Linked DNA regions of Homo sapiens. The protein of the gene in region 1 purifies or fractionates together with the protein of each later gene. This does not show direct contact. Each region holds a gene or a part of one and is shown on either strand. Other genes may lie near its edges. The genes, in order: IGDCC4 and SLC39A10.

Region 1 (16,075 bases):
TCGAGACCACGGTGAAACCCCGTCTCTACTAAAAATACAAAAAATTAGCCAGGCGCAGTGGCGGGCGCCTGTAGTCCCTGCTACTTGGGAGGCTGAGGCAGGAGAATGGCTTGAACCCGGAAGGCGGAGCTTGCAGTGAGCGGAGATCGAGCCACAGCACTCCCGCCTGGGCGACAGAACGAGACTCCGTCTCAAAAAAAAAAAAAAAAAAAAAAAAAAAAGAAACGAAATGAAACGAGAAAAACAAAAAAGAAACAGCATTTCTAGCACTTTAATGCTGTCACTTGATGCCATACAGGGCCCTCACACTCAACTTGTTTAAAAGGCCAATTCACTTCTCTCTCCTCGGTTCTGCTCCTCCCCCATGTTCCCTTCATTTAGTAGTATCCCATCCACCTAGTCAAACCTACAAGAATTCTAGCCCTGTCCCATTCTCTTAACCACTACATTGACCTGTTCCCAAGATGTCACTTCTGTCCTAGAACTGTCTCAGGGAAGTTAAGAAAAAAAATAACTTTAAAACAACATGTTAGGCCGGGCGCGGTGGCTCACGCCTGTAATCCCAGCACTTTGGGAGGCCGAGGCGGGTGGATCATGAGGTCAGGAGATCGAGACCATCCTGGCTAACAAGGTGAAACCCCGTCTCTACTAAAAATACAAAAAATTAGCCGGGCGCGGTGGCGGGCGCCTGTAATCCCAGCTACTCGGGAGGCTGAGGCAGGAGAATGGCGTGAACCCGGGAAGCGGAGCTTGCAGTGAGCCGAGATTGCGCCACTGCAGTCCGCAGTCCGGCCTGGGCGACAGAGCGAGACTCCGTCTCAAAAAAAAAAAAAAAAACAAAACAAAACAAAAAAAAAACAACATGTTAATTCAAGGTAATTTTAATATATTTAAATTAAATTGATTATTTTAAAAACCCTGTTCCTCATTTAATAAATGATGCATGCCTATTTTAAAGTAATTAGGGGCCACGCACAGTGGTTCATGCCTGTAATCCCAGCACTTTGGGAGGCCAAAGCGGGCAGATCGCTTTGAGCCCAGGAGTTCAAGACAAGCTTAGGCAACATAGTGAGACCCTGCCTCTACAAAAAATTCAAAAGTTAGCTGGGTGCATGCCTGTGGTTCCAGCTACTAGGGAGGCTGAGACGGGAGGATCACCTAAGCCTGGGAGGTTGAGGCTGCAGTGAACCAAGATCGCGCCATTGCACTCCAGCCTGGGCAACAGAGCAAGACCCTGTCTCAAAAAAGAAAGGAAGAGAAGAAAAAGAAAAAGAAAAAGAAAAAGAAAGCATCATTTGTCAAAAAACAAATAAATATATATATAATTTATATATATATTTGTGGTTTGAGGACCAAATATACAACGAAATATAATAGTGTGGGCCAGGTGCCATGGCTCTCGCCTGTAATCCCAGCACTTTGGGAGGCTGAGGTGGGCGAATCACAAGGTCAGGAGTTCGAGACCAGCCTGGCCAATGTAGTGAAACCCCATCTCTACTAAAAATACAAAAATTAGCCGGGCGTGATGGCATGCACCTGTAGTCCAAGCTACTTGGGAGGCTGAGGCAAGAGAATCACTTGAACCTGGGAGGCGGAGGTTGTGGTGAGCCCAGATCACTCCAGTGCACTCCAGCCTGGGCAACAGAGCAAGACTCCATCTCAAAAAAAAAAAAAAAAAAAAAAGGAAAAGAAAAAGAAAAACAAATTAATAATAGTGTGTTATAGGATCAAAAACAGACAAAAATTGCTTTTATAATATGGTTGCCTTTTGTGCTAAATATTTTAAATTTTCTGAGTTTTATTTCTGAGATGTGAAATAAAAGATTTTAGGATTTATTGGGAAGTATTCCCCACAAAAAAAATATATTGTGGATATGGATGATTTGTCTTTCCAGTAAACAACAAGCCAAATTAGATTCAGTTGTCCTTAGATTTTGTTTTTTTTTAAACATCGTTTTTTAGGCCAGGTACAGTGGCACACTCCTGTAATCCTAGCACTTTGGGAGGCTGAGGCAGGCAGACTGCTGCTGAGCTCAGGAGTTTGGGACCAGCCTGGACAATCTGACGAAACCCCACCTCTACAAAAAAATATCAAAATTAGCCAGGTGTGGTAGCACCTACCACTGCTTGGGGGCTGCTGAGGTGGGAGGATTGCTGGAGCCCAGGAGGTTGAGGCTGCGGTGAGCTGTGATCATGCCACTACACTTCAGTCTGGGAAACAGAGCAAGACCCTGTCTCAAACAAACTAACGAAAAATAAATTTGGTTTTTGACCTGTCAGTGACTGAGTTTTGTTTTATTTGTTTGTTTATTTTTTCTGAGACAGGGTCTCATTCTGTTACCCAGGCTGGAGTGCAGTAGTGAAATCTTGACTCATTGCAACCTCTGCCTCCCAGGCTCAAGCAATCCTCCCACCTCAGCCTCCCAAGTAGCTGGGACTACAGGCACACACCACCACACCCAGCTAATTTTTTTGTATTTTTGTAGAGACGGGGTTTCACCATTTTGCCCAAGCTGGTCTTGAACTCCTGATTTCAAGAGATCTGCCTGCCTTGGCCTCCCAAAGGGCTGGGATTACAGGCGTGAGCCACCATACCCGGCCTGTCATATATTTTTTATGGTCCCACATGGCTATAAATTAAACAGTGTATAAATGACCAAGTATGAAAATAAGTTAAAGCTGTTTAATGATAAAAACCATGACAGTGAACCATGTTTATCTGAGCATGTTCCTCGACCCTCCACTAACCACCACCCTGGAACACCCCATACACCCTTGGAAGCTTTCCATGTTACCAGCTGAAAGAGGAAAATAATAGAATATTTTATTATTGATTTTTTTTTTTTGAGACAGAGTTTAGCTCTTGTTACCCAGGCTGGAGTGCAATAGTGCCATCTTGGCTCACTGCAACCTCTGCCTCCCGGGTTCAAGCGATTCTCCTGTCTCAGCCTCCCGAGTAGCTGGGATTACAGGCATGTGCCACCACGCCTGGCTAATTTTTGTATTTTTAGTAGAGACGGGGTTTCATCATATTGGTCAGGCTGGTGTCGAACTCCTGACCTCAGGTGATCCGCTCGCCTCAGCCTTCCAAAGTGCTGGGATTACAGGCATGTGCCAGCCACCATGCCCAGCCTGATTGATTTTTAAAAACACATTAAAACAGGTGCTATATCCACTTTTAATGTTGTGAACTCTTTGGAACTGGTTAGAAATGTGCATCATACCCCAACCCTTTTGTCTCAGTGATGAAACTGAGGCCCAGAGAGAGGATGGAAGTTGCCCAAGGTCATGCAGCAAGTCTGTAACCAAGGCAGGACAAGAACTATGGTTCTTACTCCTGCTGGGCTTGGCTGGCCTGAACCTGTAACTCTATCCCTCCTCCTCTCACATTTACTCCCTACCCAGAGCCCATGTAGTGAGATATGAATATAGATAAATTAATTAGATTTTTGTATGTGGCTGGTAGAATTAGTCTCTCTATATGGCAACACCTTGTTCATTCATTCAATTGACAAATCAATTGCTTTCTAGATAACATATGAGGCCAGTCCATCTGGCCCTGGCCTCCCTGTTTGGCTTCATGTCCTGCCCCTGCTCCCCTGCCCAGTCCACACCTCCTGCACTCTGCTTACATTGTCTTTCCTGTAAGACTTCTCTGCTTCCCCCAGGTCTGGCCCGAGTGCCCCTCTTCCCTGTACCCCATCACAGACTGTATCACACTTGTCCATCTCCCTCAGTAGCCTAAGCACCATTCAGGCAAGATTCCTCTTGTTCGCCAGTCTGCTCCCAGTGCCCAGAGCAGGGCCTGACCCATAACAGGTACCCCTTGAATCAATGATTGGATATGCCATTTCCAGGCAGGAAGAGCACACTTCCCTGTGCTCTCACAGCCCAGGGCCTCTGCAGAGGGAGTTTCTTGACCACCCTGTCAGTTCTAGCCTTTTAAATTGTCCAGACCCATGTCAAACATCCACAGGTCTGGCCCGAGTGCTCCTCCTCCCTGTACCCCATCACAGACCGTATCACACTTGTCCAATCAATAGTTCTGTGAAGCCTTCCTTCTCAACCTCCATGTCCCCCCACCCCACACACGGTAAATCCCTCCTCCTTTTGTTCCATCCTCCCTGCCACCCCATGCCACTTAGGACACTACTATCCTTGTGGGCAGGGACTTGTATTTTTTATCCAGGTCCCCTGGCACCTACACAGTGTGAGATACTGATTTAGGTGCTTAGCATTCAGCAGTGAACCTAGCAAACAAAAATCCCTGTCCTCATGAAGCACACATTGTGATTGTGAGGGGTGGGGGAACAGATCGAAAATAAGTAAAATGTAGAGCATATTAGTAAGTTACAAGTGTTGGCCGGGCGCAGTGGCTCATGCCTGTAATCCCAGCACTTTGGAAGGCCGAGGCAGGTGGATCACCTGAGGTCAGGAGTTCAAGACTAGCTTGGCCAACATGGTGAAACCCCGTCTCTACTAAAAATACAAAAAATTAGTCGGGCATGGTGGCAGGCACCTGTAGTCACAGCTACTCGGGAGGCTGAGGCAGGAGAATCTCTTGAAACCAGGAGGCGGAGGTTGCACTGCGCTGAGATCGTGTCACTGCACTCCAGCCTGGGCGACAGAGCAAGACTCTATCTCAAAAAAAAAAAGAAAGAAAAAAAGAAAGTGACAAGTGTTGGCCAGGCGTGCTGGCTCACGCCTGTAATCCCAACACTTTGGGATCCAAGGCAGGTGGATCACTTGAGGTCAGGAGTTCGAGACCAGCCTGACCAAATGATGAAACCCCGTCTCTATTAAAAGTACAAAAAGTTAGCTGGGCATGTAGTCCTAGCTACTTGAGAGGCTGAGACCCAAGAATCACTTGAACCCAGGAGGCGGAGGTTGCAGTGAGCCACTGCCCTCCAGCCTGGGGGACAGAGTAAGACTCTGTCTCAAAAAAAAAAAAAAAAGAAGAGAAAAAGAAAGAAAATAAAATAAAAAAGAAAGTGACAGTTAAAGACAAGAATAGACAGCAGGGAAGGAGGATAGGAAGAGTAGGGGGTGAGGCTGTGAGAAAGCCTTTATGGTATCCAGTATGAGGGAACAGATCTCTAGACTTGCACTGGCCGGACAAAGGTCTTGAGGCTGGAGGGGAGGAGGCTGCCCGCGATCAAGTTACAGCAAGGAGGATGGTGTGGCTGGAGAGGTGGTGAGCACAGGGGGTGGTGTCGAAGGGGAGGTCAGAGAGGTAGAGCAAGCCTACAGATCAGATAGGCCTTGTGGGTCACAATAAGGACTTTGGCTTTTGCTCTGACATAGGAGCCGCTGGTGGGTTTCTAGCAGAGAAGTGGCATGATCTCATTTTAACAGGAGCACTCTGGCTGCTGTATTGAGAAAACACTCAAGGAGGACAAGGACAGAAAAAGATCAGTGAGGAGTTTGCTGTGACAATCCAGGTGAGAGGCGACGGGTCTTGGACCAAGGCCACAGTGAGAAAGTGGAGGGTGAAGCATCTGAACATGAAGAGTAGGAGATGACTCTACATTTTTTTTTAATAGAAATGGGGGTCTCGCTATGCTGGCCAGGTTGGTCTTGAACTCCTGGCCTCAAGCGATCCTCCCACCTCGGCCTCCCAAAGTGCTGGGATTACAGGCGTAAGCCACCAAGCCTGGCCTCTACATTTTTGACCTGGGCAACAGGAAAGGAACTGAGATGAGGAAGACTGTGGGAGGAGAAAGATTGATAGAAAAGATCAGGATGAGTTTGTCTACTAGACAGCTAAAGGAACTGGGGCCTGGATGGCTGGATACAGAAGTCCAGGGTTCAGGAAAGATGGTCTAGGCTGAAAGTATACATTTGGGCATCATTAGCATAAAGATGCTCTTTAAAGCCTTGAGGACCAGATGAGATCACTAAGGGAAGCAAGTGTTTCAAGGAAGAGGGAGTGATTCACTAAGTCAAATGCTGCTGATAGGGCAAGTGAAGATGGGGCGTGGCAATGAATGAATAAACGCCAGGCCTGTTAGATATGCAAAGCGCCAGTGATTATTGAGGGTTAACTGACAACAGACAGGTGTAGAGACAAGATGGCTCTAAGTCACAGGAACACTTAGAGACACAGGGAAGGGAAGAACTATGGCATCTTGGAGTTGGAAAGGACCTTAACTAGGTCATTGAATCTGTACTCTTTTCCCCACCCTAGCCTGACAATTGAACCCTTGGCTGTAGAACAAGAAATATTTGCGGGATACTGAGGCAAACAGTCTGGCTAGGTAGGTTAGAGAAAGTACCGTTGAAGAATGAGAAAAAGGGTACTTCAGTAAATGCTGGACAGCAGAGGCAGGGTGAGGGAGTGGAGATGACCTTCCGAAGTCAGAAAACCAAGGTTCAGGTCCTGTATCTGCTGCTCCCTAGCCTCCTGTCCTTGGGCAAGTCACTTCACCTTCTCCAGCCTCAGTTTCCCCATGCGGCGACATCTGAATATGGTAGTGCTTGAAGGTAGTGTAAAAGTGTCCTGCCTGTGTTAGTTACTGCCAGAGCAAGGGAAGGAGGCCAAGAGAAGCCCTTGGTTTGGGATGGCAGATAGGACTATCAAGATCTCCGCAGGTGGGCTGGCGCAACGTGTGGAGAAGCGAACCAGCATTCAGGCCAGGACCTGGGCTGGAATGGACTGGGCTCGGGTGGCAAGGGGGCCATCTGGACAAAGACCGTGGCCCTGAATCTGCCTCCCCTGAGCCTGGAACGGAGGTGGAGACCCCGAGGCAGCAACAGGGAGAAGAAATAGAGACGCTGAGGCAGAGAGACCAGAAGACTCAGAGACGGGGAGACTAAGAGACAGACCCAGCAACAGGCGGCCTCACGGGGGCCCGCGGCGACCCGGAGAGGGCGAGGCACCGGGACACAGACCCGGGCCGAGAGGAGCCCCCGCGAGGCGCAGGGCCGTGGCGCGCGGGCGCAGGGTCCCCGGCGGGGCCAGGGTGGCCACACTCGCCGGGCGCCCCCTCCCGGGCCGCTCGCCCAAGATGGCGATGGAGGGGCGGGTGAGGCGGCAGCGGCCCTGGCCCCCGCGCCGGCCCCAGCTCGGGCCCGGGCCCCCGAGGCCGCGCCCCCGCCCGCGGCGCCGCGCCTCCCCGGGCCACTGACGCCCGGCGCGCTCTCCCCCCGCGGCGGCGGCCGAAGCACGGGGAGGCGGCGGCGGCGGCGGCGGCCCGAGCCCAGCCCCATGGCGCGGGGGGACGCCGGCCGCGGCCGCGGGCTCCTCGCGTTGACCTTCTGCCTGTTGGCCGCGCGCGGTAAGGGCGGGCGCCCGGAGAGGCAGGAGCGACTGCGGAGTGCTGGTGCGCCCGCGCCCTGGTCTGCATCGGGCTGCGGGGCTGGCTCAAGCCGGAGTCCCGAGCAAGTGCGGGGGCTGCGCGTCCAGGTGCCCGCGATGCCTGCGCGGGGGTCTGCGAGCTGCGGCCGGGGGGCGTTTGTGGGGCGTGCTTGTCCGCAGTGGGTGTGTGCCTTTGGTTCGCAGAGTCTGGAGTCGTGTGTGTGTGTGTGTGTGTGTGTGTGTGTGTGTGTGTTGGGAGTGCTCCTGTCGTGTCCGCAGTGCGTGCCATGGTCGCGGCGTGGCATCGGCGGGGCGGGTAGCTGCGGTGTCGGTGGCTTTCGCGGGGCGGGCTCTGCCTTGCCTGCGCGTGTCTTGGGTTGAGAGTGTGTGTAAAAGAGGAGGGAACTGGGGTTGTGTCTGCACCTCCATTTGGGTCGGGTGCGTGTGCAATTGTGTTTATGGGGCTGAGCTAATATTTGGCCTTGGCATTTGGGAAGTGTCCTTGCCCATAGTGGGGGACAGAGCGATGGATCCCGTTTGACTGGGGGTGGTGGTGATAAAACAACACTCAACTTTGCCCAGTGGGTGTGGTCCCTGGGGCCGGTTAGAGAGGGGTAGAGGGAGGTGTTGCTCCCCAAAACCTGTGGCCAGCAGTGGACTGGGGGAGGGGGCAGGAAACCATTTGCTTTCGTGGACATGTCCAGCGCTTGTTCTCACGATGGGACGCGTGTCACCCCGGCCCCACCCCCCAGGGACCGACCAGGGAAGCGTGGACGAGGTCAGCAGGGCCTCATCCAGTCCGCAGCCCAGTGCGGAGTGGGTACGGGGTAAGTCAGAGTTGTCCAAGCTGGAGAAAGGGCTGGGGAGGGGATAGCGAAGTCCCCAAGGGTGTGTGTCTAGGGCTGCGGCTTCCACCCACAGCTCTGTCGCTTCCTGTCCGGTGTGCGTTTGGGGGCGGCTCATGGGGAGTGTAGGTGGCAGGGCTGGGAGGGGGATGGGCTGGCCGCTTTGTTCGCCTAGTTCTTGCCTTCCCCGCGGAGGGGGGAGCTGAGGATGTGTCCGGGGAGAGTCGGGGAGGGACTTGGAGGTGGGGGTGGGGAGGGGGATTTCTCTCCAGCTGCTGCGGCTTTCCAGAGAGACTCAGCCAGGCCACGTGGGAGGGAGGCGGGGGGAAGGAGCCTCCGCCTGGCCAGCCCCAGGCCCATCTCCAGGAAAACCAAACAGCGGGTGGGAAAGTGCCGGGAACTCCTCGGACCCCTTCTGTCCCTACAAAGACACGCCCCTTTCCAGCCCCAACAGCGGATTAAGCTGGAGGCCGCCGCGAGGCTGGGTCTCGGCTGCTGGGCCAGAGGAGCTGGAGGCCCTGGCTTGTCAGGTGAAAGGGGCGGGGAAGTGTCAGAGAGAGGTCTGTCTTCCCAGAGCTCAGGGGATTAAGGAATAGTTCCCCTGCCCCACCTTCCGCTATTCCTAGGGCTCCTGGAACGAGCTCAGGGTCACCCAGCTAAACGGCATCAGGGCTGGGAACCGCACCGGCGCATTATTCAATACCTTTAGGACCTGCCGCGAGGGACCCAGCTTCCCTGGCCTCTCCCTGCTCCCGAACGCACAAAGCAGGCGAGGGACCGAGTTGCGGCGTCTCTTGGTTGCAGTGTGAGTGGCTACAACAGCTTGCCCTGGTCCTCCAAATCTCAGCAGGCCGGGGGACACTCCAGTCGAGTCATGACTAGCCACCCTGATCTGTACTGAGGTCATTCATTCGTTCAACAAATATTTATGGAGCACCTTTTATAGGCTAGCTTGTGCCTAGTGCCTAGAATATAGTAAATAAGGAGGCAGACCTGATCCCTGGTGCAAAGCTTTCAGTCTGGTGGAGGGGGAAACTGACAAGTCCCCTGAAGTGCTGGGGAAGACGCAGGAAGGAGGGGCTCCTACACCGATCTGGGAAGGTCAGCAAAAGCTTCCTGAAGAAAGTGATGAGTAGTAGAGCTCGACATGGAGTTAGCCCTGTAGAAGGAGAATGATGATGGGGACAGTTTTCCAGAGAACAGCATGTGCAAAGTTCAGAGGTGATTTAGTTGAGATCATTGGATTAAACTAAATCTAGCTGGAGTTTAGGGACAAGGGGTGGATGGGGGGCAGGTGAGGGAAGCATGGAAAGGGGTCAGGGAGTATCAAGACAGGAGGCTGAAGAGGGGAGCTAGATCCAGCTCACAAAGGGCTTTACAGGGCCCACCAAGGTTTCTGGCCTGAGAGTCCCCATGAGCCCTTGACAGGATTTAAAATCAGCTTTGCATCATCTCATTCCAGCCAGTGTGGAGGATGGATTGGGTGGGGCTGGAGGCAGGAAGCTCCAGCTCCTTCGAGGCTGTTGTAGCAATCCAGAAGAGAGGATGGTGGCAGCTAGCATAGTGGCAGTTGGGGTTGGGCTGGAGTGGCTGCATTCCAGAGATTTTCAGGAAATAGAATCAGTAGAACTTGAGGATAGATTGAATTTGTAGGGGGCGAGAGAGAGGAAAGTAAGAAATAGGCCGGGTGCGGTGGCTCACGCCTGTAATCCCAGCACTTTGGGAGGCCAAGGCGGGCGGATCACGTGAAGTCAGGAGTTCAACACCAGCCTGGCCAACATGGTGAAACCCCATCTCTACTAAAAATACAAAAGTTGGCCAGGTGTGGTGGTGCATGCCTGTAATCCCAGCTACTCGGGAGTCTGAGACTCGAGAATCGTTTGAACCTGGGAGGTGAAGGTTGCAGTGAGCTGAGATCACGCCACTGCACTCCAGCCTGGGCGACAAAGTGAGACTCTGTCTCAAAAAAACAAACACAACAACAACAAAAAAACATGAGGCAGAATGAAGGGCTGGTATTGGGGTTAGGATAATGCCTGTGCCTGCCCATCTCCTCCCAACACTGTTCTTGAGTCAGGGACTGGGACCCCTTTGTGAACAGGTGGCGAGAAGCCGAGCTCTGTTCTTATCACACGCACAAAGGTGGGGCTCTCGGCTCTCCCTTCTTCCCAAGTCAGAATTTGGAGGGTAGGGAACCTAGAGGTCAGTAATGGGAGGCCTCTAAGAACTTGAGAGCTTTCTCCTCACCTGGGAACTCCTCACCTCCCCCATCCCTTTCTCAGCCCAGAGGCTCAGAGGCCAATCTCAGTCATTTGGGGTGGGCCTCTTTCCCCATCTTGGAAGTTAGGAATCAGGTCAAACAGTTGGAGTTTCTTTTAATAATGAATCTTATCCAGAAGATACCTAAACCTTCATTGATCCTCTATGTGCTTTCATGACTCAATTAAACACACATTTACATGTTAATTAGCATTTCTTTTCTCCTAAACATATCTCTTTCAAGTGAAGCAATTTCACAATTAGCGCATCATTGAATGTCAGCACTGAGAGGAACTTAGAAATAATTTCAGGCCAGGCTCATACCTGTAATCCCAGCACTTTGTGTGGCTGAGGCAGGAGGATCGCTTGAGCTGAGTTTGAGACCAGACTGGGCAACATATTGAGACCTCATTTCTACGAAAAATTAAAAAAAAAAAAAAAAAAAGCATGGCGGTCATGGTGGTGTTCCCTGTTGTCCTTGCTGCTCAGGAGGCCGAAGTGGGAGGATTGCTTGAGCCCAGGAGTTCAAGACTGTGGTAAGCTATGATGGCTCGCACCACTGTTCTCCACCCTGGGCAACAGAGTGAGACTCTGTCTCAAAAGAAGAAAGAGAAAGAAAAGAAGAAACAATTTTAGCATGAACCTGTTTTTACAGATGAGAAAACTGAGTGACTTCCCAAAGTTACATGATTAGGGACTGAAATGGGGCCACCCTTTCTAGGGATACCCAAGTTCACTCTCTTTGCACTCCTCTATACCTTCTGAGACGTTATCAGCTTCATGCTCTCCCTCTCAAGTGGGTCTATCTGGGCTCTGGAATCCACCCTCCTCCACTTAACCCCCCCCACCTCTTTCTATTCTCTCCCATGGTACAGCAACCAGACTTGATACGGAATTCCAGATGCAGAGCAGATGTCATTACCAGGCAGGCTTGGGGGCAGGGGGAGGAGTAAGCATGGCTCTGAGGGAGAGGACCCCAGCCTGGTCAGAGGTGGGTGACAGGAGCTAGGGGGCCAGGGAAGGAAAACCAGAGAGTATGTTTTGGAGCCTGACATGCAGAGAAATCAAACCCTGTTACCTGTGCCAACTGGGCTGCCAGCTACTACTGCCTCACTGCTGAGGCTGAGTGAGGTATCCTTTGGATTTGGGGGCCCATGGGGTCCTTGGGATCAGGGAAGCAAGGACCAATAAGCTGTCCTTCAGGTGCAGACCCAAGACTCCTGGATGGTTCTATAAGGGACTTATGACCTTGTTAGATAGTTTGCAGGACAAAGCTCTGGCCAGTGAGCAGAAAGTACTGGGAGAGACAGGTGGGCACAAGAGAAATAAATTTTTTAACCATATGAGCCATACAGCAAGAGAACAGGCAAGGTAGTGATCTCCCCAGCCTGGTCATGTTTAAGTACAGGGTTTCTTTCAGTGTGGACTTCAGCTGTTCTATCTCTGCTTTTCAAGCATGTCATGTCTACTGGGTGCCACGCAGTGTGCTAGGCAGTTTCCACATGTCTTCCTGACATCCTTTCTTGCCCTGAAGGGAGTTACTGTTGTTTTTACAGATAAGGAAACTGATGCTTGGAAAAGCATAGGGGGCTCTATGCCTTATCTTTTTGAGGATGTCTTCATGGGTTCACTCATCCATTCAAGAAATGTTTATTGAGCACCTACTGTGTGTTAGGCACTGTTCCAGGTACCGAGGATTTAGAAAGCTAAGACATAACCCCAAGACTTTGGTGCCTAGTTGAGGAGAAAGGCAAGTCAAAAACCTAGAGTGAAGGCTGGGCATGGTGGCTCACTCCTGTAATCCCAGCACTTTGGGAGGCCAAGGTGGGCGGATCACTTGAGGTCAGGAGTTCGAGACCACCCTGACCAACATGGTGAAATCCCGTCCTACCAAAAAATACAAAAACTAGCCAGGCATGGTGGCGCACACCTGTAGTCCCAGCTACTTAAGAGGCTGAAGCAGGAGAATCACTTGAACCTGGGTGGCAGAGGTTGCAGTGAGCCGAGATCATGCCACTGCACTCCAACCTGGGTGACAGAGTGAGACTCCGTCTCCCCCCGCAAAAAAAATCTGGAGTGATAACTGCGATGATGGGGGTGCCAGCGTTCTACGGGGCAGAAAAAGGAGAGGTGTCTAAATCAACCAGGGACATCACAGCTGTTCTAGGGAGTGAGAGCAGCACCAGCAATGCGTGGAACAAGATGTGTTTTCAGAGAATTGGCCATGGTTTGCTGTGTGTGGAGGGGTAGAGGGTCTCAGGGGAGCGGGAGATAGGCAGGTCAAGCTGAGCCTGGCTTTGCTGTTGGATAGGCTGAGGCTGAGACTCTCCCCTCAGGATTGCAGATGAAGGGAGAGCTGAGGCCTTCCTTGTGTCCCAGGCAACTGTCCCAACTCTCCTTCCAGCTGTTGGGGGGAGGGGCTCAGCATGTGGTAAGGGAGGTGGCCAAGGTTGGGGGCAGGAAGGAAGGTTTCTGGAAGGAACCGACTTGTGTTCTCTGGGAAAGGAGAATGGTGATGGTGTCGTGGAGAATTTCTCCTGGGCTGCAAACAAGTAGTAAATCTGTTGGGCCCTGAAATTCAGAAGTGAGGAGGCACTGATGTGATGTTTGTGGCAAGTTCCTGGCTTAATAAAGGAGCCATCTTGGCCTCGTTGTTCCCCTCCCCCAGCTACACGCCCCTTCCCTAAGAATTCACTGAAAAATGGAACTCACGCCAGGCCTCCACTAATCCCACGAAACAGCATTGAGCTGGCCCTGGAGCTCAGCAGCGAATCTCCTTTCTGTCTGGGTTCTAATTGGCCTCATAAAATCCAGTTTATCCTGTAAGTGGGTAAAATAATCTGTCAGAAAAAGGAGATTGAGAGGTGGCCCTAGGGTTCCCAAATGCAGCAGCTCTGTGTCTCTGACAGGGTCTCACTGAGGAGATTGAGGAGAAGGGATTATGGGAGGGGTGGCCCCCTCAAGACAGAAAGCCAGCGGGCAGCAAGTGTCCACTGGGCACCTGCAATGTGTCCACCCCGGCACTGAGAGGGAGGGCTAAAAATGTTGGGGGTCAGCCATGACAGTGGGCTGGGGGTGGCAAGTAAGCGCTGGCCATGAAGCTCCTGGACAAATAAGGTCCCCTCCCCAGAGCATCGCTTTTATGAAAAGATTTGGTGGTATGGGAGCCACACTTATATTAAAACAAATATTGCTGTGTTATGGAGCAGAATGCAAAATGTGCTAGAGGTTTGGCCGGGCGCGGTGGCTCATGCCTGTAATCCCAGCACTTTGGAAGGCCGAGGCGGGCGGATCACGAAGTCAGGAGATTGAGACCATCCTGGCTAACACGGTGAAACCCCGTCTCTACTAAAAATACAAAAAATTAGCTGGGTATGGTGGCGGGCGCCTGCAGTCCCAGCTACTCGGGAGGCTGAGGCAGGAGAATGTCTCGAACCCGGGAGGCGGAGCTTGCAGTGAGCCGAGATTGCGCCACTACACTCCAGCCTGGGTGACAGAGCGAGTCTCAAAAAAAAAAAAAAAAAAAAAAAAAGTCAAAACATTTTAGGCAGTCAGCGAGCCTCGTAAATATGTGTTCCTCTGCTGTTGAGAGAATTTGGGTGAAAACGTTTGAGAAGTTTGGAGACTTCTCATTTTAAAATTGGGGAAACTGAGGCTGAAAGGACAAAAGTAGCTCACACAAGGTCATGCAATGAATGACTGGACTTAGAACCCAGGACTCTGAGGCCAGGCTTGTCCCACCACACCCCCTTGTCTGTCTAGGCAAGAGTAAGGGACCTGCAAGTGGTTTTCAGTGTGAGACTTAGGAAAAACTTTACCTGGGGAAGGTAGGAGCAGCCTCACAGAAGGGCTGGCACGTGAGTCCCTAAGGATGCGCTTCCTGGGCACAGAAATCAGGTTGAGCACAGAGGCAGAGAGAACCCTCTTATTCAGGAGCAGTTGTCTCCTCAATGCTGGTTCATCCCCAAAAAGTCAAAGAAGGGCAGTTTTCCCAGACTGTCTTCCACAGAGATGAGACCCCTCCCCAGGCCTCAGTTTCCCCATCTGTGGAATGAGGATTCTCAGGCTTCACAGACGTTTCCACTAAAATGGGCTGTCTTGGGCTCCTGGCACAGCACTGCTGCTCTCTGAGGGGGACCCCGTCTTCTCTCTGTGTCTACGTTCCTGTTGCTTTCCCTGTTCCTGCCTTGCTGAGCTCCTCAGAGGTGGGGAAGCCAGACATCTGCTGATCCATGAATATTCAGGAAGGGAATCGGAGCCTCCTCTGGGCTCCCCAGCCAGCCGCCAGCCCCTCTGGCGGCCGTCCTGCCTGCCAGAGCCCAGGCTGCTGACATACCCAGCAGCTGCTCGGGCCCCAACTGTTCACATTGTTTGTTCAACGCAGCAGGGGATTTTCCAAGCCTGGGACATGCTTTAGGGGGCAGGGAGGCTGCCGGAGGGCTCAGGGATTTGTGTCCTTTGGGGGTTTTCTCCCCTGAAACCCAAACCTACTGCTTAGTGGCTGGAATGGGCATTTGGAAGCCACTGGACTGAGAGCCGGGCTTGCCTTCCTCCTACCCTGTACTTGAATCATGGCATCTAGGGCCTTAGAGATAGAAGGGACTGGATGATAAGAACAGCAAATAGCACTTGTACAGCCCTTTATAGTTACAAAGTGCCTTTAAAGAATAAGCTCCCCGCCGGGCATGGTAGCTCATGCCTGTAATTCCAGCACTTTGGATGTGCTCTTCCAGAGCACTGGATCTTCCAGAGCCAAGGCGTGATCTTCCAGAGCCAAGGCAGGCAGATCACTTGAGGTCAGCAGTTCAAGACCAGCCTGGCCAAAATGGTGAAACCCTGTCTCTACTAAGAATACAAAAATTAGTCAGGTGTGATGGCGCATGCCTGTAATCCCAGCTACATAGGAGGCTGAGGCTGGAGAATCATATGAACCCAGGAGGTGGAGGTTGCAGTGAGCTGAGATCATGTCACTGTACTCCAGCCTGGGCAACAGAGCACAACTGTCGCAAGAACAAACAAACAAAGAATAAGCTCCCATTCCTTGAGTGATGTCTATTAGGCTCTGGGCTGTAGCCCTGACATACATTGTCTTGTTTAATTCCTTCACGCTTAGTGGTATCATCTTCATGTGGAAACTGAGTCCCAGAAAAGTTAAGTGGCTTGTCACAGAGCTGGTAGGTGGAGCAGCAAGACTGAAACCTTGATCTTCTTCCCCAAGGTCAAAAGCTGTTTCCACCACAGCACGTGGCCCGCAGTAGTGTGAATGCCAGATTGGTTTCCCCAACTAGAATGCAAACTTGGTGAGGGCAGGGGCTGCTTCTCCCTGCTGAGCCCGCGAGTACTGCTGAGACTAGTTGTGAAGCCAGAGGTGTCCAGCAGAAACCATCTGATGAATTAAGAAAGGCAGCAGCCCAGGTCAGGTCCTGTCTCTCCGTCCGCCCTTCACACTGCAATCCCAGGCCCTGGCCTCCTTATTTCACGCAGCCATCACTGCTCTTCTCCCCTCACTCTTGTTCCTCTTTGGAGCTGGTGGGAAGGGAGTCTGGAGACTCACAGGGCTTCTAAATGTTGACCTGTGTGTCCAAGTGTTGATGAGTGTGGCAGAGACTGAGGCGCATGTGTTTAGGAGTGCAGAGCTATGTTTACCAATTTGTGTGTGGTCTCAATGGTGTTT
Region 2 (15,811 bases), on another chromosome or scaffold:
TAGAACTTAGTTCCTTCTAACTTAGTATGCAATTGAAAGCCTCAAGTCAAGACTCCTGTGTATTGTTTTGTATTAGGACTCTATTGTACAAATATTTGAGTACCTTAATATGAGTCAGTTACTTTTTCTAGATCTTGGATCCATGCCAGACAACGCACATTCTGCAGACACTGGTTACTCCAGTGGCTCCTTACTGGAAACATATAATATCAGTGATAAGTGCTGTGAAGAAAATAAAACAATGATGTGCTGGTATGGATTTTTAACTTTTTTATGTGATGAACCACAGAATGATGGTTTTAAATGTATGAAATACATAGAATTGCAACAGAAACCAGTTATGAAATAATGAAGATATTAAATATGACATCTATATTTTAGTAAAGCATTAGTGAGGACTGTAAATGATCTTTAAAGAATTTGGCTTAAATTTAATCTAAAATTGCTATCAGGTATTTCACATCGCTGTAATTTTTGCCTGCATTCGTAACTGAAGAGATAAGTAAATGTCAGAGGTTAAGATAAATCTTTTTCTTTTTTTACCTGTCCATATTTACAAACATTCTGCGTTCCGTACATAGACGCCTGGATAAGAACCCCTGTGCAAGAATGACTTTGGTGCTACTTTAAAAAAAGTGGTTGGGGAAGACCTCATAGGAAATGACATCAATAATAGATTGCATGATAACCTATACTAGTTCTTACTGTTACCAATTTAAATTCTAACTGCTTAAAAGCTAACACGGTCCTTCCCTTTTTTTGAGCACCTGATTTGAAGTACTTTGAGTAGGCCTCAAGTGTCGTATGCAAGTACTAATCTAGGGGGTGTGCCTTTTTCAAAAGTGATTTTTGGAGAAGATAGGATGTAGTATTATAGCAAGGAAAATTCAGCATCTGGGATGATCATTTCCTTCTGATTAGAGAAATTTACCTTGTTAATATTCTGTTCACCCAACCCTTCTACCCTCAGTGTTGACCAATACTGGAAAAAATTTAGGGCTTTGGAGTGAAATTTTAAAAGTTCAAAACCTTGATCTATTAATTAGTTTGCTTACCTTGAGGAAGTTGCTTATCTTAATCTTCTATTTGAACTTCAAGTACAAAAACCCTACTCACGGACTTAACTGTGACCATTAAATGAGATAACCAAAAGGCTGAAGATGATAGTGAGTTGATTTTACCTTTTTTCTACATACAGATGTTTCAGTTCTTTCATTAGTGGTTGAAGGTCTGCGTTCTTTTTCTCCCTCCACTCCCTCCTTGACTACCCCCAGAATGAGCTTTGATGGTCTCTACTGGGCCTTTGGGGGGGATACATTATCCTGTTGTTTTTGTTCTGTTACTTATATATAATACTCATGGATTTATTTCTACTTCTCTTCCATTTTCTAATTTATAATAACATGTGCATCTTGTTTTCCCTGCCAAACTAAATTTCGTGAGGGGGTACATACTGCACAGTTTTTTTTGTCACATACTGCTTATGACACATGAATATGCAGAGCTTGTCAAGCTCTTTAATTAAGTTTAAAATGCTAATTGAGTGAATCAAAACTTAACCATTATGGTTAGGCTAAAAATGTCAGCTTGTGTTTATATAGTGCTTACCTCAGTATTGGAAATGCCATGAGTTTAGTATCAGAAGGACATTATTACTAGTGCATTTTAAAGTGATACCAGTCATAGTTGCAAAAGAAAGTACACAATGGGAAATGGAAGAGAAATGTAGGGAATCAAAACAACTAGTTTTTTCCTTTATAACGGAAGTTTTATAATTCATCTTTTATGTAAGTGTAATTCTCATTAAAAATACCCTAAAGCTTAAAGTTTGCAAGGCTGCCCAGCCTAACCCACAACAGTTTGATGCTGCCCCCTAGCGTTTGATTCCCTTCACCTTTTGCTAAAATAAGGTAATGTTTAAATTACAATTAGATTTACTTACTGCTGTAAATCTGGTCTATTTTAGTTTCCTCTGGGTAGTTAGTGTTGCTAATAAGATGGACGTAAGTGTTTTTGAACTGGTGAATTCTGATTGCTTTTAGCCCCCAGTTTTCCAAATAGGGGTGAATTTTGGGTAGAGATAGAACAATCACCAAGTTACCTTGCTCCAAAAAAGAAATTTACGTATGGGATTGTTTTCAAAGCGGGAAGTTAGCTGTGTAAATAACAACAATTTTATATATTTAATCTGGGCTTCTCCTTATCTTGAATGATATAAAAATCTACTTTCTAGATTAATTTAGTTCCATATAACTTTGTATTGCTTTGACTGTACTGATAATAAAGTTTGAAAGTGTTAAATTTACATTGTGAGCTTTTTTTTAAAATTCGAATTTATTTTCTATGACTTTTATAGAATGATTCTTAAAAAATAGTTTCAAGGACCTCTTCATAGCCACAAGATTTCCTTTTTTATATCATTAATATTATTTTATGTGAATACTATAATGAAACCCAAGTATTCAGTTTACACACAGATATTATAACACAATATACCACTACACAAAGGCAATGAACAGATAACATTCTACAAAATCTACTTTACAGAAAGGATTTTCTGTAGTCAATGCAAACTCTTAAGGTTTTAGGTTTTATTTAGATTATTGCAATATCAGTATTTCAAACTCTTTTTTTTCTTTTTATTATCCCTTATAAGTTCTATGGATAGGCCACAGGATAACTTTTAGCTTTTTCTAAAATATCCAAACATATTCTCAATAAAAAATTAGTGGAATGCTTAAAAGTATAGTAGGTATGAAGAAATATAGAATCAAAATTACAGTTTTAAATAATAGTATGTATTTATTTATATAGAGACAAGGATCTTGCCATGTTGTCCAGGCTGGTCACAAACTCTTGGGCTCAGGCAATCCTCCCATCTTGGCCTCCCAAAGTGCTGGGATTACAGGCATGAGCCACCGTGCCCAGCCAGTAATACTAAATTATTTCCAAATTAACTGCTTAGGAGACCACATACAATGTTCAGACATGTTAAAACAGGACACAATTCATTGTATCACATCAGTAATTCTGTGTCGAATACTGTTTTCCTATCAGAACGTAAGGGTTTTTTTGGATTGCCAGATACAAGGAGTGGTTATTTAATAGATTTTTAATGGTAGATATTTTTATGTTAAAAGATGTTAGAATAGGATGCTACTGGTGATACAGGTTTGCAGGCTTGTACAAGTATAAGGACAAAATCTAAAATCTTGCTCAGGTAGTGTTTATTTTCACAATCTAAAAGTAAATATTTTGTCATAACCTTTTATAATCATGTTTTATAATTACTCATTTTTAGATACTGCTGAAAGGGAGGTATCAGATAATACTTATCCTTGTATTAATATTTCTAATCAATTTTACCCTTTTATATACTCGACTTTGGGGGACAGCCCATCCCGTTAAGATTTTTAGGGATTAGAAAAGCAAGAATGTTGTAGGATGTATCCTTATTAATATCATTATGTACTTCCATAGGACGAGAAGTATTGTTATAAGAACTGTGAACTACGAAGGAGGTTAATTTTAATCCTCTATAATGAAGATTTAATCAGTGATCACTTTAGGTTTTAGATTTTCATTGAATAAAGGAAGAAGAAAAACCTCAGTCACTTTTAGTGTAGTAAGAACATCAGAGATATGTATCCTACTGTGGTGTTCCCTTTTTTTTTTTTTTGTGAGACAGTATCTCTGTTCCCCAGGCTGGAGTGCAGTGGTGAGATCAGGGCTCACTGCAGCCCTGACCTCCTGGGCTTGGGTCATCCCCTTACCTCATCCTTCCTAGTAGCTGGGAATACGGGAGCGTGTGCCACCATGCCTAGCTAATGTTTTGTATTTTTTATTGTAGAGACAAGAGTTTCACCATGTTGCCCAGGCTGGTCTCAAACTCGAACTCAAGTGAGCTACCTGCCTTGGCCTCTTGAAGTGCTGGGATTACAGGCATGAGCCACCGTGCCCAGCCTATGCTATTACTTTAATATCTATAAATAAAAAGAAACAATTTCAGATATTCCTTGCCTTCCCACCTCTAGGCTTTTTTCTAAATTCACTTTTATATATTTGAATTTTTGAGTTTTAAAATAGTGGTTTCCCCTATAATTGTCTGCTGGATTGGCACTTTAAAAAAAAATCTGTAAATTAAATTTGGATCAGCAAACTATGGGCCAAATATCCCTGCTTCTGTAAATTGTTGGAACAAAACTTGCTTATTGATGTGTGTATTGTCTATAGCTGCTCTTGCGGTAAAATACTTTAGTAGAAAAATGTTCAGTCAAATGATCAATTCATAGGTAATGTGAATTTGCAGGTGTTCTTTACCTACATAGTAGAGAAGCTTTTTGTCTCTTTCCGCTTTCCATTTTTCCTCTGCAGAGGGAATTATGCTTTATTATGCTTGGAGTCGGAAAAGGAATGTGAAGCCCTTGGCCTTCAACTGTTGGTTACCACCGAACTGTCACACTGTTTGTAGCTACTTATGTAGCTCTCTCACAGTTTACCTTTTCTAATTGAAAAGCTGATTGTGTCTTCCTTGTAACTCTCTCAGAGCAGGAAATGGATCATATTTTTATGCCGCCTATGTCTCATGTCTTCTTTCCCTTCCCCTTTCCCTCCTATCTTCTCACTCCCCTCATAAAGCAATTCAAAACTGCATGCTTACAGGCCTTTAAACAAATATTTTGGTATATTAACTCAGTGCACTTCTACTGAAGATGACTCCTTACATTATTTTGCTTGCATGTGAAGAAATATACTTTGCACTGTGTTATAGAGGAACATAGCTTCTTGATGAAAGGGGCTAGGGAAAGATTTATTTAAATACTTTATCAATATAAATGAAACAATACATGGTGTGTTACTACATTATAAAATGAGATCAGTAAAACAATGTAAGAAAACGTAATAATAAGATAGTATAATATACACATAACGTATTCTGTGTATATATACATTATAAGGCAGTGAGATCATGTTTTCTATTCCCATGGACCTTTTTTAGAAAAGCATATCATATTTTCATAATTTTTTAATGTTTGGAATATACTGTTTTTAAGATTTTGATTTTATGGTGTTTCAAGAATATAGAAGTTATGAAAAAAAAAGAAATAAGAGAAAAGTAAATTGTATATTAAAACAGAAAAAAGATTTGGGTTTTAAATTAGGATAGTCTATAGTTTTTTTCTTTTTTTTTTTTTCAACTTTTATTTTAGATTCAGGGGGTACATGTACAGGTTTGTTACCTGGGTTATATTGTGTGATGCTGAAGTTTGGGGCATGAATGATCCTGTCATCCAGGTACTGAGCATGGTGCCCAACAACTAGTTTTTCAGCCCTTTCCCTCCTCCTTCTCTCCCGTTTTTTCCAAATAAAGTGAATAATTGAATGTATATAACATCTTATGAAAGCACATACAGTGTACATATAGAATTTATTTTCAAGCAAATAATCATGCCAGTTAAAAATTGAAAATCAGAAAGGTATGCTAAAGTTAAATCACTGAAATATATTAAGAAAAAAGTTCTTTAAATTCACTGTAAATATAATTTCATGGAATATATAATTTCTAAAACAAATTCTTAAATCTTTTTCTGTGAAGATTTTTGCGTAAACACAAGTACTTAAGGTTTTTTAGTTAACTGATATGTGTGTGAAAGTGTTGGATGTTAGTGCAACTGACATTTTTCTTTTTCCTAAAAAAGAAATAGATGTTAGGGGTTTTAGTTTTTTAGGAGTTATTTTTAATTATAGCTTTTCTTTTAAAAAAAAATAAGAAAATATACACTAAAATATGGGGAGAAAAAACTTTTAAAATTTAGCAGCAGTCATAGAAGAAATTGCAGAAACCTTAATAAGTTTCATTGCATGTACATGAAAACATCTATACATGAAAGGGAAAACATGATCAAAATAAAAAGGAACAGAACTGCAGGGTTTTTGCAGAAAATGTGACTGAATCATGTTATGTAAAAGCTCATATATGTTGGAAAAAATATTGAGACATCAGGAATAACTTTAAAAATATGAATTAAAAATAAAGTAAGACCTTTTATTTATTTAAAAATTTATAATAATGTGAATGAGAGTGCTATGATCATACTGCTGGTGGCAGTATAACCAAGCTTAATTTCTCTAGAAATCAATTTGGAAAGTAAGTATATGACAAAACCTGAAAAGTGTTAAAGTTTTTATAGTTTTTCCCCTCATCTTGGAATTCATTCGAAGCAAGTAATCAAAGATAATAGCACAAATTGGAATTAAAATGTTTGCATATTGTGTTTCAGACTGCAAACAGGCTGGGTGCAGTGGCTCACACCTGTAATCCCAGCACTTTGGGAAGCCGGGGTGGGAGGATTACTTAAGGCCAAGAGTTTGAGACCATCCTGGGCAACATAGGGAAACCACCATCTCGACAAAAAATTTAGCCCAGTGTGAGGTCGGGCACGGTGGCTCACGCCTGTAATCCCAGCGCTTTGGGAGGCTGAGGGGGGCTGGATCACCTGAGGTCAGGAGTTTGAGACTAGCCTGGCCAACATGGCGTCTCTATTAAAAATACAAAAATTAGCTGGGTGTGGTAGCAGGTGCCTGTAATCCCAGCTACTTGGGATGCTGAGGCAGGAGAATTGCTTGAACCTGGGAGATGGAGGTTGCAGCGAGCAGAGATTGCGCCATTGCACTCCAGCCTGGGTGACAGAGCGAGACTCTGTCAAAAAAATGAATAAATAAAATTAGCTGGGTGTGGTGCTGCGCACCTGTAGTCCCAGCTATGTAGGAGGATGGCTTCAGCCCAGGAATTTGAGACTTCAGTGAGCTATCATTGCACCACTGCACTACAGCCTGGGCAACAGTGGAAACCTGCCTCAAAAAATAAATACTTGAAAAACCCACAGACAAATGCTTGTGAAAATCTTAAAGCTAGAATTCATTTTCTTCCACATGTGACATTATTTTATTGGTTTGTCAACTAAAATTTAATTTATAATTGCCAACTTTTAGGTTTTTTTCAAAGTTATACATGAATATAGTTTAAAGAATCAAATAGTTGTGTGAAGTTTCTTGGGGGGAAAAATCAGTCCCCTGTCTGTTCCTTTCATATTCTGCCTAGAGAGATAAGGAACCCCTTAATTCCTTTAGTTGATTATTTTGCTATTCATTACCATGTCTCCAGATAACATGTTCATTACTTGCAGCTGATTTTCAGTTCTAACCATTATCTATTTAATGAAGAATGATTTTAGTGCTCTTTCACTTCTGTGCATACCTTCCTATTTCCTGTACTCCAGTTTCTCCGTACAATTTTCATTGTAATTTTGGTTTAGAACAGTAATTGGGGTTACATTTTTATGCTATAAATATTATTTTATACAATGTGCCATTGTAATAAATGACTACTTTCCTGCACAACTTTGTTTTTTCTGGTAATAATTAGCTTGATTTTTTTGTCCTTTTATTTAATATGCATATATTAAAAGACCCCAGCTCTGTGTTTCTGAATGTAGCTATATAAGAAAGGGGAATGTGGTCAAGACTCTATGTTCAAGAATTTTATGTAGTTTTAAAAAATTAATTGGACAGAAAGCTCCCATGTTGGGGAATAAGTAGCCTCTGTGTTGTCTGAAACATAAAAAAAGTCAATGTTATACAAAGATTGACTTGGAGATTTTTTGATTATTTTTTTCCCATGACGTCATGGAAAAGAAGGATCATTTTAGCTGGCAGTTTTTACAATGGCAAGCTGGTATAAAATCAAGGATGTATAACAGTGACAAGACACTGAAAAAGGGAAGGGTGAAAATGCATGGAATAATAAAGATTTGAGGTAGTGCAGCAGTAGCTATTTTTAGAATAAAGACAGCTGTCAGTGATGAGTGGAAAGAGAACAATAAGCTGTTGCCAGGCTGGAGTATAGTGGTACGATCACAGCTCACTGCAGCCTTGACCTCCCGGGCTCAAGTAATCCTCCCACCTGAGCCTCCCAGGTAGCTGGGACTACAGGCATGGGCTACCACACCTGGCTAATTTTTAAAACATTTTCTGTAGAGATGGGGTTTGGCCATGTTGCTCAGGATGCTCTCAAATTCCTGGGCTCAAGCCATATGCCTGCTTTGGTCTCCCAAAGTGCTGGGATTACAGGTGTGAGCCACTGCATCTGGCTGGTTAGCACTGTAAGTCTGCTTCATAATGCATGTAACTAAAATCATAAACATTTTAGTAGCTTCAAAAGACATCCCAACGACTGCATTTACTAATCTCAGATGTTTGTATTCACAAATAGCAGAACAGAGGTAGCAATATTACAGGTAGCTTTCTCCAATATGGTTCCAGGTTCCCTGTAATGAAAGGCTGAAAAGCAGAAATGCAGGTAATTGTTTTGACATTTGATGAGAAAATGTAGGTTTGTACATGAATGTATAGAATACAATAAAGATAGATATGATGTGTTGTTGATTGATTTGATACTTTAAATCAAGGTATAAATGTTTATATTCTCTCTCAAGTTAGTGAAACAGGAGAACTGAGTTAATGCCCAAGCTTAATTAGCATGCACTTAACTTTTTACATGAATGAATCTCAGTGGAAAGATTGGGTTGCCTGAACTGTGCTTTTATTTATTTATTGGAAGAGTTGCAGTGGCATTCCAAACTGTGAATATGATTTCCAGTAGATTAGATAGCTGGTGAAGTAGGGGGATGAAAAAGCAAACCATGAAGCTGTAAGAGGATTTTGTGGTCCCTGCTGAGAACTCATTACTAAAATACTTTTTATCCCTTGAAGAATATTCTAATGTCAGTGAAACTGGTAAGGTGTAGTGAGTCTTTCCAACTTCTGCTCAGATACTAGTGAATTGGGTGCCTCCTGCAATCTAGAGCAGGTCTTGGATGTGCTAACGATGCATGTGCTCTTGTAATATTTTGTTAGCATTCTTTCAAAAGAGTCACAACAGAGAGACTCCTCCCCCTCCACCATACTTTTTGTAATTTAAGTGAAAGATACATAATACTACATCTAATAATGGTAATACCTTAGGTTAATATATTTAATTGCTTTACAAAGCAGTTTCGTATACATTGGTTTATTTGGTGGATAAGTGTAGGTATTATTTTCCCTGTTTTGCAGAGAGAAAACAGTGGCACAACCGGGATGAACTAGAGACAGAGGTTTCTGATTCCTGGTTCTGTACTGTATACAAAATACCACATTTAATGGATATACGAGAAGTAGGGACAGAACTCAATTTATATTATTAATAGCTTGCACTTAAATAACATTTAAATATTGCAAATAATGTAGGAAAATTAACAAATATTTTACAAAAATATGTACGTAATTTTATTTTGTTCTTATAGTTACCATAAAATAGAACAGAAATTAACAGTCCCACTTTATAAGTAGTAATAAGACTTAAAGTGGTTAAGGGACTTGCTCAAGGACTCATAGCTAATAAATGGCAGAGTCAGATCTCTAACATCTTTGACTCCTAGGCTAATCTATCTTCACTATGCACACAGCCTCACTGCTTCTCTGTTACTCTGTGTGTGCCATTACTGAATCACAGAAGGAAACTAAATTGATATTTGACTACCTACATTGCTGTCAAGATAAAGTTTGATAAAGCCATTCAGTCATATAGATACCAGCTGTGTTTATATGATTGAGGCTATAAAACTGATTTCAACCATTTAAAGTAGTCCTGTAATGAAACTTTTAAAAAATGAAGTCCTTTATGAAATTAGGAAACTGTATATACATTTATTGAATAGATTTTCACATTAAGTTTACTTAAAACATGGTATATTATCCAGGATGAGGGTTTTAGTGATTAATCTTTTGGTTTCTACCTTATTTACCTTCAGAATAGCAATCTGGAACACTGAAAAAGCTTGCTTTAAAACCTTGCTAAGCAACTTATAGTATCTTTCCCCATCATTATTAGCATATTTTGTGTGTTTGTGTGCATGTGCACATGTGCATACACACATGGGTATGAAAGAAAGAATTGCGATACAGATAATAACTTCTCATTCTTTTATTTGGTCTTCATTTTCCTTTAAAAAAATACTCCCTAGAGTAAAAAGAGGTTTTTGTTGTTGTTGTTGTTTGTTTGTTTTTTGGTTGTTGGTTTTGGTTTTAGTGAAATGAGTTAAGTAGATTACACACAGGCAATAAGTACTAAATTGATCGGGCCGGGTACTGTCGCTCGCACCCAGCACTTTGGGTCACATCCCAGCACTTTGGGAGGCTGAGGCGGGTAGATTACCTGAGGTCAGGAGTTCAAGACCAACCTGGCCAACATAGTGAAACCCTGTCTCTACTAAAAATACAAAAATTAGCCAGGCAGGCGCCTGTAATCCCAGCTACTCAGGAGGCTGAGGCAGGATAATCCCTTGAACCTGGGAGGCAAAGGTTGCAGTGAGCCGAGATCGTGCCACTGTGCTCCAGCCTGGGCAACAGGGTGACTCCCTCTCAGAAAAAAAAAAAAAAAAATTACTAAGTTGATTGGCCTCTCCAGCAGTTGGAACTAGGATTATTTTAGTATTTATCTGCTATTTTTCTTACTATGTCAGACAGTCATTTTGTTAAGTAATCTAAATTTATTCACAATGTCTTGGTTTTTTCTATTGAGTAAGTAGTATTAGGAGACAATTTCTTTTCCCTTAAAAAAAGTCTTTGTAGTATATTTTAGATGACTTTAATAAAGATCTCACAGTGTTCTGGTTTCAAGATACACAAATATGCTACTGTAGTAGACTAAAGAGCCCCTGTCTTTCAAGTCAGAGAAATGCCACAGACTTGAAATAACAGCTTAATCACGTTAGATACCTTTTCTGGGTCTTAGATTCCTTGTACATAACATTATTTAGCTAAATACACCTGAGGATTTTTAAAATCTCAAACATTCTACATTTTTATTATGTTCATCTATATGAAATAAAAAACAATCTAAGACAAAATATCTGTAGGAAGATTTGTCATGTTAACCATTTGTATATATTCCTACTGAACTTGTTATTTAGGTGTTTAATTTTATTTAAAATTTTTAAAATTTGTAGCTTGGCATTTTACACATTTCAAAACTACAATCCAAAGCCTATAGTTAAGGTTTTTGTAGGCTGGGCACGATGGCTTACACCTGTAATCCCAGCAGCTTGGGAGGCTGAGGTGGGGAGGATCCCTTGAGCCCAGGAGTTTGAGACCAGCATGGGCAACATAGTGAGAGCTCATCTCTATATGAAAAATAAAAATGAATAAATGTCTTTAAAAAAGGTTTTTGAGCTGGGCGCTGTGACTCACACCTGTAATCCCACCACTTTGGGAGGCCAAGGCGGGTGGATAACAAGTTCAGGAGATCAAGACCATCCTGGCCAACATGGAGAAATCCTGTCTCTACTAAAAATGCAAAAATTAGCTGGGTGTGGTGGTGTGTGCCTGTAGTCCCAGCTACTCGGGAGGCTGAGGCAGGAGAATCGCTTGAACCCTGGAGCTGGAGGTTGCAGTGAGCGGAGATCATGCCACTGCACTCCAGCCTGGTGACAGAGCAAGATTCTGTCTCCAAAAATAAAATAAAAAAGTTTTTTGTAAGCTTTTACAGGAGAAATTGCTATGGAGAATATCAACCCTAATTCCTTTTTTTTTTTTTGACAAAAATAGTATATATTTATTATGTACAACATGTATTTTGAGACATGTATACATTGTGGAATGTCTAAATTGAGCTAACAAATACATTATCTCACATACCATGTTTTTTTGTGGTGACAACATTCAACAATATAGACCATTTCACAAATTTGCATGTTATCTTTGTGCAGGGGCTATGCCAATCTTCTCTGTATTTTTTCAATCTTGGTGTATGTGCTGCTGAAGCACACACCCTAATTCCTTTCATTTAAGGATCTAGTTAACCTTTCTCTTAAGTATAACCATGTATTTTGTTAAGCAATATCTTTTTATTACAAAAATGCCATTTTTTTCTGGTTAGAAAATTGATTTTCTATTACAATATTTTTTAGAGTGTGTGTAAAACCTGATGAAATTTGAATAAGGTTCGTAGTTAATAGTATCGATGTCAGTTTCTTGGTTTTGAACATGTACTACAGTTATGTTAGATGTTATTGGGAAAAGTTGGGGAAAGAGTACATGGAAACTCTGAACTAATTTTACAACTTCTTGTGAATCTTAAATTATTTCAAAATAAGTTAAAAAAAGCACATTTCCCTTTGCGTATTATTAAGTATGGATGTGTTTCTAGAAATTATGTGTTACTGATTTTACTAATTGAAGGTTGGAATAAACTTCATGTGGGGAATAAAAATTAAGTTTTGGATGAAATATAACACAGCTACAGAAAAGTACTCAAATGTTAAGTGTAAAATTCAAGCAGTTTTCATGAAGTGAAGTGCAACCATGTACCCAGCACCCAGGTAAGGAAATAGGACATTAATAGGAACCCAGAATTCCTCTCATGATTCTGCCCAGTCACTCCCCACACCAAAGTATAATCACTTCACTACATATTTAGTTCTGGTTTTAGTCTTAAATACAAGAGAATATTAGTGAACTTCATTTTTTCTTTGCATCCAAAGCAAAATATTTGCATTCAAAATAGTATAATAATTAGCACAATGATTAAGTTCCTAACTGTAAATTAGCCCCACTCTTAATGCAGAAATTATACAGTGATAGAATACTTAGGCTTTTAACTGTGGTTATGTATTGGAAATCAACAGCAAAAGATGAAAATAAATTTGTTGTGGCACTGCTAGTTATTTACCGGAATCCCTTTTCCCATTTCTTGTCAGTAGCCTCATCCATTGATGTTGACAGCACCTAGCAGAACTCTTCAGTAGATGTAACTCAGCTGAACTGAAAAAATATTATCAATTATAAAACTAACATATTCTTAATGCATAAAACTTGGAAAACTCCAAAACACAAGAGACATAATAGAATATTTTGGCTTGGGCAAAGCTGTGTCCTATAAATGTCAGTTTTTAGGGTTGAGTGGTATATGGGCTTCTACCATTTCCCCCATTCCTGTCTCCATCTCAGAGATCCTCTTTGTGCTGTCGATGGAAAAGATTGTTAACATCTACTGGAATGCTTGGGAAACTCTGTAAGTTGGTGAGACCCTGGCCTCCTAGCCAATTGAGATCATGTGACTAACCCCTTGCCAATGGAATGTGATGAGAAGTGATGCCTGCAACTTCTACTTCCCTTGATACTGAAGAAGAAACTTCTGAACCTGGACTTCCATTCTTTCTCTTTCCCTGTTGGCTGGAATATCAACTATGTAAGAATGTTATGTCTCTGAATGACTGGAGCGGAGCTGCACTCAGACCCGGAGCGGTCATCTTTTTTTTTTTTAATGTCCAAGTGATTTAATATGGAGTAGTCATCTTCAACTGTTATTGAGAGAGACAAAAACTTGCCCATTTCTTAAACCACTGCCTTTTGAGAGGGGTCTCTTTGCAATCAATAGCTGCTTAGCCTGTGATAACAAAATGCATATTTCATCTAAATGATTTTTTTTTTCTTTTGAGACAGGGTCTTGCTCTGTCACCCAGGCTGGAGTGCACAGCACAGCACGATCTTGGCTCACTACAGCCTGGCCCTCCTGGGTTCAATCAATCCTCCCACCTTAGCCTGTTAAGTAGCTGGGAGTACAGGCATACACCACCACACCAGCTAATTTTTTACTTTTTTTGTAGAGATAAGCTCTCAGTATGTTGCCTAGGCTGGCCTCAAACTCCTGGGCTCAACCATCCTCCTGCCTTGGCCTCCTACTAAAGTGCCAGGATTACAGGCATGATCCACCATACCTGGCCTAAATGATTCTGAAAGCATACATCTGCTATAGTAGTTCTAAACTAAAGTTGCAAAGTTAGTGAATGATTTACTTTAATAAATAAAAAAAAGCACAGGTTTAGTATTACCTCATAACGTTGCTTGTATCATTGTATTCCTATATTCTCTTAAATGTAAGTGATTAGAGTACTCAAGATACTTAAAATCTTTTCCATAATAGAGTATGATGTATTTAAAAAGTAGAGACAAATGACGTTTTAAAGCTTGTGTAAACCATCTACAGCTTTTGTGTTTCGTGGAGTCATTCATTTGATGATGTCTGATCAATATATATGAATGTCCTGTTTCCACCTCTGGTACCTATTCATTTGACAGTGAGATAACATGCATTAAAGAAACCTCATGGTATTTACATATCAGCTGAATGAAGCAACACTCACACCTTTAATTAGCATCTTCTAGTGGAAAATCAAGGTAACTGCAGGGAGTGTAACAGGGAGCTAAAGGAATATGTATCTTCCTTTGCTTAACAGTGGTCTTAATCACCCACGCCTTTTTATCTTCATTAGTGTACGAGTAAAATTGATACACCGTTTAAATGGTGACTTTATCCATGAGACTGTGAGATTAAAAAACATCTCAAACTTAATGCTGCTTTGGAATTGTTTTATAGGCTATTTTAAAAAATGCTTAACCTATATATGCCATATATGATAATTCAACTTAATTTATTCAGATAGATCATAACATTCAGTTGACTAAACTATTATTTATTAATTTATTTTGAGACAATGTCTCTTATTGCCCAGGCTGGAGTGCAGTGGCAAGATCAGGGCTCACTGCAGCCTTGACCACCCAAGCTCAGATGATCCTCCTACCTTGGCTTCTGACACGCCACCATGCCCAACTAATTTTTTTTGTATTTTTTTTGTAGAGATGGGGTTCTGCCATGTTGCTCAGGCTGGTCTTGAACTTGCGCTCAAGATCCGCCAACCTCTGCCTCCCAAAGTGTTGGAATTGCAGGCGTGAGCCACAGTGCCCAGCCCAAAGTATCATTTTAGAGAAATGGAAGTGTTTGGTAATTTATTTGTATAAATAGGCACTCTCAAATGTTGTCTAGCTTGCATCAAACTCACTAGAAAGGCTGGATAAGTCATTGCTAATTTATATGTGTAAATAGGCACTCTCAAATTTTGTGTAGCTTGCATCAGACTCACTAGAAAGGCTGGATAAGTCATTGCTGGGTCCTATCCCTAATGTTTCTGTTATAGTAGGTCTGGGTGGGATGCAGGAATTTGCCTTTCAGATTTCTAGCAAGCTTATGCTGCTCTCACAACCACAGTTTGATTAACCACTGATGCAGGTTATGTGGTATCTTTTCAGATTTATAGAAAAGTACACAGAAGAATAATCAAGCACCTGAATCCCATTATCTTGCTTTAACAAATATTAAATGTTTTATCATATTGCATTAGATCCCTTTCCCTTTTTTAAAGAAATAACACACTGCAAATGCAGTTAAATCTGTGTACTTCCTCTATCAGCTGATTTCCCTCCTTCCCTTTCTGAGAAGATAATGACTCCAGAATGTAATCATCCCATGTTCTCTTGCTACATGAATATATACCCCCAAATAAGTAATTCTGCATGTTTTAAGATTGTCTGTAAATTATACAGCATGTATCTTTTTGCAATTTTAAAAATTATATTTCTGAGATTATTGCATGTTAATACAAAGTCCTTCATAGTCACATTTATAACTGCAGTGTAATCTTTAAATAAATATACCATATTTATTTATTCTAATGATGAGCATTTAGGTTGTAGCAGGCAACATAATGGTTACACAGCTGACCACTTTTCCTTATTTTATTTTATTTTTGAGACAGAGTTTTGTTCTCGTTGCCCAGGCTGGAGTGCAATGGCATGATCTCGGCTCACTGCAACCTCCGCCTCCTGAGTCCAAGCGATTCTCCTGCCTCACCTTCCCGAGTAGCTGAGATTACAG

Evidence for each region.
Region 2: the proteins of IGDCC4 (region 1) and SLC39A10 purify together in Homo sapiens (affinity purification with mass spectrometry; 2 studies listed by BioGRID and IntAct, with this or other methods). This does not show direct contact.

Annotation. Positions count from the first base shown.
Region 1 is NC_000015.10:65,413,995-65,430,069, reverse strand, and holds the start of IGDCC4 (immunoglobulin superfamily DCC subclass member 4 precursor), read left to right. Parts: upstream 1-7,122; 5' UTR 7,123-7,207; coding exon 7,208-7,277; intron 7,278-7,667; exon of another isoform or gene 7,668-8,015; coding exon of another isoform or gene 8,016-8,124; intron 8,125-10,500; exon of another isoform or gene 10,501-13,221; intron 13,222-14,219; exon of another isoform or gene 14,220-14,742; intron 14,743-16,075.
Region 2 is NC_000002.12:195,658,610-195,674,420, forward strand, and holds part of SLC39A10 (zinc transporter ZIP10 precursor), read left to right. Parts: intron 1-13,047; exon of another isoform or gene 13,048-13,111; intron 13,112-15,811. UniProt on the Homo sapiens protein: Zinc-influx transporter. When associated with SLC39A6, the heterodimer formed by SLC39A10 and SLC39A6 mediates cellular zinc uptake to trigger cells to undergo epithelial-to-mesenchymal transition (EMT).